2 separate regions of the Homo sapiens genome follow, and region 1 is linked to region 2. The links come from fine-mapping of genetic effects on plasma protein levels. Region 2 holds a variant in brackets. A gene starts in the other region. All regions are shown on their reverse strands.

Evidence for each region. PIP is the posterior inclusion probability: the model's chance that the variant is causal. Protein levels are from antibody-based Olink assays in UK Biobank. Linkage for the fine-mapping came from a reference panel and not from the study's own genotypes, which makes the PIPs less certain.
Region 1: COX5B starts here. The variant in region 2 is fine-mapped to the plasma level of the COX5B protein (UK Biobank, PIP above 0.99).

Annotation. Positions count from the first base shown.
Region 1 is chr2:97,641,148-97,646,499 of GRCh38, reverse strand. COX5B (cytochrome c oxidase subunit 5B) reads right to left here and starts at 438. Exons shown (of 4, transcript NM_001862.3): 1 at 311-438. The coding sequence starts at 413. RefSeq lists enhancers at 334-513, 694-743, 546-1,480.
Region 2 is chr4:47,646,956-47,652,336 of GRCh38, reverse strand. The region is part of intron 13 of CORIN (corin, serine peptidase); the gene reads left to right. Among named protein-coding and RNA genes, the nearest start is that of MIR8053, 3.0 kb to the left of the region's middle. RefSeq lists an enhancer at 609-1,152. The variant G/A (reference allele first, on the strand shown) is at 3,191.

The DNA of each region.
Region 1 (5,352 bases), not on the chromosome of region 2:
CCACTCTGCTTGAGGTGGGCGCAGGTTTGAAGGGAGGCCGGACCCCTCCCCATCCCGGTGGCAGCCCCGGTCCCTCCCAAGGTCACCCGGCACCTCCGTTTAGGATACTTTCGCAGCGGAGTGAGTTCGGGGAGCGGCAGGAGCAGCGGTCCAGAATTACAGGGAGATGCCTGCAGAGCCTGAGGCACTGGGGACCGTAAAGCGGCCACTGGGACCTCGAGAAGCTGCACGAGCCGCGCCGCTTTGCCGCCCTGGGACCACCCTGGGAGGGCAACACTCTGGTCCCTGGCACGCCCGGAGACCCGAGTACCTCCAGATGCCATGGAGCGCATCGCGGCCGCGCCACTGGGGCCGCGAGCCCTCAGGGCCTGCGCGGCCAGCGTTCCAGCTCCGCGAAGTAACCTTGAAGCCATTGCGTCCGCGACTAGCAGCAAAACTTCCGGGAACAAGCTGCAGAGACAGGAGGGACTTCCGGGGGCGGGCTTCTTTCTCCTCTCGGTCAGCTTTCGGCTTCCTCCCAGCCCTCGAGCCCGCCCACTCCCAAGACTGTGGCGGGGGCGGAAATTGCGCATGCCCAGCTCTGCCTCTTTCTGCACCGCGTAGTGGCTGAGGCTTGGGGGCGGGGTTGCCTTTAATAACGCTGGGAGGTGGGAAAGTCTTTTTGGTCCCTGGAGTTGAGCGGCTGAACCACATTGGAGTTCCTGTGGGTCTGGCCCCGTAGTCGTGTTCAGCAAACGTGGAGGCTGCTAATGGAAGCTATTAGGTCCCCGTCTGTGAAGAGACTTACTGAACCCCAAATGATTTGAATTTAGAAGTGGGCTCCTAAAGATCACTGCGTTCCTTACTAGGCTGGTTAGTGGCAGGGCTGGTTCTGGCAGTGCGTGGGCCGTCGCGAGCGTGTCGCATTGGACGGGACCTACCTGCAGTCCTGGCCCAGTTTCGTGTTAGAGTTGTACTGTGTGTGGGAGGCGCGGAGGTCCCGGCCTGGGGAGGAGGACAGGGCCGGGGGCGGGACCCCCTACCAGGACCAAGGCCCTGGTGATGTGAAGGAAGTGGCCACTCTTTTTCGAGGCTACTAAGGGAGGAGGAGCAGGAAGGGGAGTTGATAATAGGAAATGGAGTTAGAGCCTGCTGTGACTGGAGTTCCTTGTTTGAAACGGAAAACATATTCCGTCCATGGCTTCCCGTTGCCCATAGGCTAAGATGTGCAAATTTCTTAGGGTGAGCTTTAGTCAGTATAGCCCTGTGACAGGCTAGCTGCATGCGGTATCTGAGTTTCCCTACCAGATAGAAAAATCCCCTTAGAGTGGGAATTAATGCTCATCATTGAATCTTCAATGCCTTGCAGAGGTCTGGTATATAGTAGGATCCAGTAATTTTAGTAAATTTACTACTTGGATAGAGTATACAAAACCAGTTTATAGGGCTTTTCCTGGCCCAGTGAGGTCAATTGGAGGCAACATGGGGAGAGTTGAAGGCTTAGGTGCTCCCGCCTGTCTCATGCAGGCTACGGTATTTTCAAAAGGACGTGGTGGAGCGTTGCTTCACAGGAGCACGTCTGGTCTTCCTGGGTGCCCCCTCCACCAATTAAAAAAAAAAAAAAAAAAACCCTGTATTCTAAGGCCAAAATTTCTTTAAAGGTGGTTTTTGCTTTGAATGGCTTCACTGTTACTCCCTTCTCCCTCACCTCCACTGCAACCCCTCCAAGTTGAATTGGGCGAAAATTCTGAGGATCTGTAGTTAATTTGCAACTGTGGTTAAGGTCTTAGGCAGGAGAAAAAAGCATTGGTCTGGAAAGTAGCCCCACCAGCTAGTTCAGCTACTTTTTATCCTTTGGGCCGCCATTTCTACATCAGTAAAACTGTCGTTCAACTAGGTTAGTATTTCCCAAAGTGTATTGCATGGCATCCAAGTCTCAAGACATGATCTCAAGAAAAAGGACTTGGTCAAGACAGGGAGGGCCTGCATTTGATGACCACCCTTTTGGAGATGGACACTAGCATAATAAAGGCTCTGATTAGGCTTGCAGTAAAGACCTCTTATTTAATTTACCTGCAGTTTAAGCCAGAGTTTCCCTGTCTTAATTGACCACAAAATCCTTTCTGAGGAACACCTACTAACTTGCCCCTCAGCAAACCAGTGAGGTATTCAGCTCTGATATGTTATGATTCCCTGCTGCCTGACCAGAAGTGGTTTACTCCAGGCTATAAAATGGAAATTGAGTTTAGGCTTCTCACTCTCATAGTAGGCTTGCCTAATAATAGGAAATTTTCGCAGGCCCTCATCCAACTCAGGAAAACCTCAGCCTCACTCTGGGATTATTTAGATTGTGTGAGTGAGCTCCAAGGTCAGGTCCAGGCTCCCCAGATGTCCCCGCATCCCTTGCTGCTTCCAGCTCCCACCACTGTCAACTCACACCCAGTCCCTCAGGTCTCCTTTGGAAACAGTTGGCTTGGGGAACAGTCTGCCACCTCTGCTCTATCATTGTCTTTGCCAGCACAATAAACTTATTTTTATAGGATAATTTTCAGTTGTCAAAATAAATGTACATTATAAGTTGAACAGCACAGATATATAAGGAACAAGCTAGCAGTTTGGTGCTTATCCTTTTTTTCCTTTCCCTATGACAGAGTTTCTCAAGCTCAGCACAACTGACATCTTGGGTTGATAATTCTTTGAGGGAGGTTGTGCATTGTAGGATTTAACCCTATGTCATTAGCACCTCCCTGACATGATAACCAAAAATATCTTCAGCCATTGCCACATGCCCCCTGGATTTGCAAAATTCCCATTGAGCATCACTGCATATATGAATATAAAATATAAAAACATAACTACTATACAAAGTTTTAGTTAGTTGCTTCTTTCATTAAAAAATATTTTGTAGGCTGGGTGCGGTGGCTCACACCTGTAATCCTAGCACTTTGGGAGGCTGAGGCAGGCAGATCACCTGAGGTCAGGAGTTCAAAACCAGCTTGGCCGACATGGCGAAACCCTGTCTCTACTAAAAATACAAAAATTAGCTGGGAGCGGTGGTGGGCGCCTGTAATCCCAGCTACGTGGGAGACCGAGGCAGGAGAATCACTTGCACCCGGGAGGCAGAGGTTGCAGTGAGCCAAGATCACATCATTGCACTCCAGCCTGGGCGACAGAGCAAGACTCCGGCTCAAAAAATATATATATTTTGTAGATGTCCCTTCAGATCAATACATCTAGATCTTAACTTACGTGATGGCTGCAGAATATTCCCTACTGTGAATGTACGTTAATGTGCCCAGCCATTCTCCCATGATGAATATTCCAAAGGCTTCTAGTTTTTTGCCTCTCATACAATGCTGCAGTATATTCTCATACAATATCTGAGAGTATATTCTTATAGAAGCAAATATTTCATTTTCAGTAGAAGCTTATGCTCATTAACAAATGGCCATAAAATGTTTTTTTAAAAGTTGATAATTTTAAAAATAATATCAGCAAGCTTTTACCATTAAAATCTCCAAGGGGTTTAGTCCTTTTGATATTTTTCTGTACATGTTTTTGTCTATATCCACCTTTGTCTATTTTTTAAAAAAATTTTTCTAAAATAAGTCATATTTATTTATTGTATTTTAAAGCTCAAAATGTATTTAAACATTTTATTAATTTAGGCTCTTTTAAATAATATCTTATTTGATATGTTCAGTTAATTACTAGTTGGTAAGTTTAGATATAAAGTTTTTAAATGGCAGAGGTCTATTTCATAAATTATGAAGCCTGAGGTTGTCAAACCCTAATTTGATCAATGCACAATTTATACATGTATCAAAATATTATATCGTATGTCATACATATGTGCAATTTTTATATATTGATTAAAAATGAAAATTTAAAAATTATTGAAATAAGTTGTCATTTAAATAAAGGTTTTTTTGATTAGTTTGAATTTAGTAAAAATGCTTTAAATAAAATCACCTGAATATTTTTTATGCACAGTACCTATTTCATTTCCCTGAGTTTAAAATTAAATCAGCCATAGGTGCCAGACATTGAGGCTCTACTTGTCTTTTTCCAAAACCATCCATCATGGTCATTAGCATTTTGGTCTTCAAATCTAAAGACTGGTAGAAATTGATCAGTACTGAAGGGATTTACATGTCGATGAGCCAGGTGAGATGGTAGCAGATCCTAGATTTCAGTGAAGAAAGGGCAGAAATTATCAAAGAATGGAATGATGTATTCAAATATCATATAAAAATACTATCAGATGTGGGAGCAGAAATGAAAGTAGACTTGGGGCCCCAAAAAATCAAACATGAATTTGCCACGTGGGTGTTGTTTAATAATCAATGACAAAAGCCAGGCATGGTGGCTCACACCTGTGATTCCAGCACTTTGGGAGGCCAAGGCGGGCAGATCACTGGAGGTCAGGAGTCTGAGACCAGCCTGGCCAACATGGTGAAACTCTGCCTCTACTAAAAATACAAAATCAGCCGGGCCTGGTGGCACATGCCTGTAATCTGAACAACTCGGGAGGCTGAGACAGGAGAATCCCTTGAACCTGGGAGGCAGAGGTTGTGGTGAGCCGAGATCATGCCATTGCACTCCAGCCTGGATGACAGAGGGTGACTCCCTCTCTAAATAAATAAATAAATAAATAAATAAATAAATAAATAAATGACAAGATAAACCAGCACTAACCACAACTAGAGGGTGTTTGTAGAGGGCTATTTACAGAGATTAGAAATTGAGTTGATGTAAACAATGGTGGAAGGGTAAATCCTTTCATTGGTCCTCTGTACTGCAGAAACCTAATAAGGGAGGGGATTTAAGGATCCTATAATACATTGGCCTCCAAAAAGCAAGGCTTATTATTTATAGAGGCATTTGGAATTTGCTAGACTGTGGAAATCTCAGAGAATAACATCTGTTATCCAGAAAGCCCAGGGGACACCCAACTCCTGAGCCAAATGCATGAATTTTCCTGCAAGCACTGTTCAGACCAGTTATAGAATATTCAGGTGAGTATGTCCTTTAATTTTTTTTTTGTTTATAAAATTGTGAACTTCTGGACGGAAAGTCCTGGATATTTTACAGTTTTATCTATAGCATGACATCTAGAATTTAATTGGAAACATTTATTGTAGAATATGAAAAGTTCTGTGTTGTCTGTAACTTCAGGTTGCATGCAGCCTTGGTCGTCTGCAAAGTTTTCAAAGTGCTCAAAGGCACTTTTTTATTTTCCTAATATTCCACTGAAGTTTTTATTTATGTAATGGTATTTTTAATTTACAAAATCTATTTTGTTGTTTGAATGTTCTTTTCAAAGTCTCTTGTTATTTTTTGATATTTTTACTCTATAAAATAGAAAACATG
Region 2 (5,381 bases):
TGATCTAGACAAAAATGTCACAAGCAATCAACTGAAATCCTGTCAGCTCCTATAAATATGGACTAATGCATCTTCTGGAAAACTTCAGCTGTCAGAATGATGGTACAATGTCTGGGGTAATTTTGTTATGGAGGAATGTACAGTGTTTTTAGAAGCTACTGTTGTTTGCTTGTTTGTGGTTTTTTGTTTTGTAAAGAAATAAATCAAAATTCATTGAATATACCTTATATAAGTGATTTATTGAGAATGTATTAGATTTGTTCACTGAACTATGACTTTGATGGGTCATGGTATTTGAGATGCAATTTAAAATAGATTATCTTAGATGGTTCAAAGAGGTTGCATGATACTTTGTTGGGGTGGCTAGACCTAAATTTGTTGTAGGGGACTAAATATTTGAGAAATACAAAAGCTTAGTTAAAAACAAAACAAAACAACTTTACCAAGACTAAAAGTTCTGAGTTCTAGAACATATTCTGCAAAAAATAAACTTAAAGTACTATCATATTGGTATAGGGTTTAAACGACCCTAAAATATCAGGTTTCTAGTTAAGTAATTGGTTTTCACCAGTATTTTAATCACACAATTAAAGGCACATCAAAATAATAGAATATATTGTCTAATCTCTATCAAAAATTAAAAATAATTGACAGCACTATTGAGAGCTCTAGTTAAGGAAAGTTAAAAGTGGGTAAGAAATAATACATTTGGAGTTCAATTAATTGCTCCAGCAGTACTAATTTATGAGAAGTTTTCCAAAGTGACTAACAATAGAAAACTTTACATACTTCGTTCCCCTTTGATACTTCTGCATGCATTTGAATGGGCTTGTTCAGTGATTTGGGAGGACACACCACTTCAAATCAAATAAGGAAGTCAGGTTGATGAAGGCTCAACAGAGGACTAATAGGAAGTCATCTGTTTCCATTTGCCTCCTTGCTGTTTGTCTTTCTGTTTTCGTATGTGCATAGGCACACCATCTGGTAATGCAAGCACCAGCTCCAGCAAAGCTGGGTTTCACCCCAAGCTTCTTGCCTTTCTGACTTATTCTGTCCGTTGTGTTATTAAGTGTTTGAGCTTTACTGAATAATTGGACAATTAACTATTCATTGTCATGAATCTGCAGCTCCCTCAGAATTTCTAACAAGGTTATTGAGTTTCCACTCAAAACAATACTTATTTAACTCAGTTATGAAATAAATATTGTGTGAGAAATTACTTCTTGTTTCTTTGGCACTTTTGTAATGGAGAAACATGATAACCAAAGCACTTAACTTATAAATACACTTTTAAAATATATGCATTAGAATTTAGCAATCAGTAATACTGTTCTTAAATGTCTCCAGCTCTTGTGGTAGATTTTTGCTGTTGAGGCTGCTTTGATTGTGTAATTGCCAATGTAAACAAGAGTTGAAAATGTCAGTACTAGAAAAGTTTTCAGCAAGTGTTGGGATGAATTGTGCAAATCCGATATGGGAAGGAAGTCTAAGAGACAGGGGAATGCTGAGCAGAATCTGCACTGTGTCAGTACAGAAGTACTGCATTGTCTTAAGGATGCTTAAGATGTCAATTACTGTATGCTTAAGTAATTGAGCATACATGATATAGATGGAGCTGCCTGTAAAACTAGCAACTTGATAAATGAGTTTATTTTCAACGTAACATTTTCCAAGCATTGATAGCCATGCAGTGGAGCATGAGGGAAAGACATGGGAAAATAAATGATCAAGAATGACATCAAAGAAAGGAGAGCTAAGGAAAACAACAAAGGGATTGTATGTTTCAGCTGTTCTATCACTCTATAGATTTGAGTGTGTGAGGCTGAGGTTATCTCTTGCTAGGCTTTACCTCCACGATTTGGGTCAGCTACAAGAGCAGGTGGTACCTGGGCTGTGATGCAAGCAAGCAGCAACTCCCAGTGGAGCAGTCACATGAAAATATAGCTACAACAGGTGCTTTATATCGACTGTCAAAATAAAATCCTTTATTACATGAACACAGAATCAAAATTACTAATTGATCACTATTCTAAGTAAAATGGTATACATCATATGGAGAAAAGATTGACAGCAATGCAAATGTCTGAGTGTCATTAAGTGACTTTCTGTTTATCTTCAGATGACCAAAAATCAGTTCTTCACCTATCTTTGGTCTCCTCTTGATCTTAAATAAAATAAAACCTTTAAATATAACCTGAGCCATTTCTTCAAGTCAGAATCCCCTTAGGTTGTATTAGAAGATCTGACTCTGATATTTACGGGTTTTACAGCTTGATTTCAAAGAGTTTCCAAAAGGCATGTTTTCTTTTTGGATTCTTGGATAGCATTTCTATGAGTTATCTCACAGAAGGGCTTAACTGGCTTTCTTAACACTCCAAATACTACCAGTCTCTATGCTTTTGTGTCTCTTTGTCTGGGGAGGAGACCACTCTTTGCTCTGTAGCTAGCAGAAGAGTGAGAGTCATTATGTCCATAGCTTTGGCATATCCACAAATGTGCTTTCAGGAGGAATTTTCAGGATTGATTTCTCATCACTCAGTAGGGTTTAATTTTCCATGTTAAGGGGGAAATTTTCTCCTTCCCTTTAAATACTTGGTTAACTGTTTCATCGTCTTCTGTGGTGTCTTGGGAAGGCAGGCTGGAATGGCAGAGTGTCCTGCGTAGACTTAGACTTGAATTTACATCCTTACTTAGCCTTAGAGGCTGTGTGACGTTTGGCCAGTCAGTTTACTTCTCTGGGTAAGATGCAGAGAACACCCACATTATCTCTCACAGCTTGGAATGCTTATAACATGCCCTGTTCATCCTCAGAAGCTAATAACTGGGAACTCACCTGCTGTGGTGGTGGAAAATCAGGAGGCGATTCCTTTCAAAGGCTGCCCCAGCCATCTCCCTTGAGGGAAGGAGTCCTGTCTAGCATAGTCTTGTTTCTGACAGCTGTTTATGGCAAAAGAGAGTGGGCTGGTCTGTCAGGCTAAAGCATGGGCTGGGGGAGGTCTCTGGCTCACATAGTAAACTCAGGTAGATGGATGGTGTCTTTTCCTGGAGATAGTGTTGGTTTTGGGTTGGATGTTCTCTCTTTTTAGGATTAGAGCCATGCAGTTTAAAGTCCCATCCATTCCTTCATCCTGCCTCTTTCACGGGAGACTGGGCCACCCATATGTGAAGAGCATGCCATAACAATGGCACT[G/A]CTAAGAGTGGGAAGTGACTCAGGAATTGGGTAGGCTGCTGCGACTTTCCAGCTGGATGGTGGCTGGATGGCCTGTGCTGGTATGGCTGCCCTGATAATCAGGCCTAGACCACAGTGGGAAGCAGGTCCTCTGTTCCAGCTGCTATAGCAGGTGCAGAGGCAGAGCCCTTTGCAGCCATGCTTTGAGGGAAGGGGCTTTGTTGTCCAGGATCCTGCATGCTGTAGAAGGCTCTTCACACCTGTTAGGCCTGTACTCTGGCTGCTACAGCTCCTTATAGGTCACATCCACAGCCACTTCCTGGGGCAGACACTGGTCCAGGATGGCTGGATCCAGACTGTTCCAGCCTTTGTCAGCTCAATAATGCAGTATTACCTTGTCTCCTTCCTCCTTGTGAGCGGCTCCACTCCAAAGGGTGAGAATTTAAAAATTTCATGCAGCTCAACTCAAGAGGATGAGTGGACCTACTTACTCTATAGCTGCATAGCTAAGAGATTCTTACAGAACAAAAAGCATCTGCTTTGAGGTGATTTGCTGACTTTATTTGTAATGACAACTGTTTTTATAGAGAAACAAGGTATTCCATTTGGGGGTGGGGGGGTACTGCCTCTGTCAGGGCAGCCTGTTTCACAGAGTTTTTGTGAAAATGAGAGATAGAGTAAGCAAAAAACCCAGATGAATGCTTAGCACACTTAGTGTGACCAGTCAACCAGATCTGCCTGGGACTGATGGGGATCTTTTGGAACAAGGGACACTTTGTGCTCAAATCAATTAAATCCCTGGCAAACTGGGGTGAGTTGGTGACTTTTTTGGAACACTGTATCCTCAATTATTGGTTGTTGCTATTGTCTCTGTGCTGGAGAGGTTATTATTCTGACATCAACAATTATTTGGTTTCATAACCTACAGGTGCATTAAACAGCCCATCCCATCCATGCCTGTTTTTAATTTTTGATGGAATCATATCCTTTTCCTTTTAGAATATACATTTAAAACATAATTGCACCAAAATGTCACTTTACAAAGAAAGTGGTTTCTTCTTAAAATAATACTATCTCCCATGTAACTAATATCTCTCTCTTTTTATCCTACTTCTTTTGTGCTCACTGTAACTCCACAAAGGAGGTATTATGCTATGCAAACTTTTATGAGAAAAGAGAAGACATGGAGAGGTGAAAAGTGAATGCTTATGGAGTATTCCTTTAATGTTTATAGCAACCCTATGAAGCAGGCATTATTATTTGTATTTAAGATGTATGGAAACCAAAGTTTGGAGAAGTTAAGTAACTTACCCAAGCTCACACAGCTAGTGAGATTTGGAACTAGGATTCAAATCCAGTTGTCTGACTCTAAAGCTGTGCTTCCACTGCTCCTACCCCTTACGCATACTTCATGTTCGCATCTTACAAAGGACTGCAACTGATGACTTGTACCTGGATCCCATCCAGATCTTTCTCCGTAGAGCTGTGATGTGGAGGGATTCAATTTCTCTAAATGTTAGTTTCCTCACTTATAAAATGGTGAGCATAATACTGACATTATAGTGTTATTTTAAGAATTAAAGCTAATATCTAGAATGTGGATACATAGTGGATAATACATGTTATCTCATTATCATCATTATTATTATTATTATTTGTGAGGATGCACTTTAGGCGGCCTTCTGTCCCAGATGATCTATTTCTGTGGTATTTCATCATCTCATTCCAAATGTCGAAGTTCTTCCTTGTAGTCTTAAGAAGAATGGGCCTTGGGAATCGTCAGGAAAAACTCATGCTATTTTATTTCATTCTCTATTAGCAAGTGGTATGTTTTGTGAGCAGAGGAGCAGCCCTGGAGAAGGGTCAGCACCATGCATGGAGTGTTGAGTCCTCTTTCTTGATGTCTTTTGCTCTCTGGTAGAATGAGCAGACTGTACCATTTGGCGGGAGCTGGGTCACAGAGGACAGGCTTCAGGCTCTTTCTCAAATCTCAAGAGACTCTTATTGTCAGAACTTTTCAGATGCTGTCTGGATCCTCTACTAGCTGAAAACTCTAAATAATGTCCCTGTGAGTTCTTGGAATGGATGTCCCTGGGCCTAAGACCCCCCCGGATTATCAGCCAGTGAAAGACTCTCACTATTTATTTCCTATATCTTTGGATGATGAAACACACTAAATCTAATTTTAGCTTATAGTAAGCATTTTGGGTCA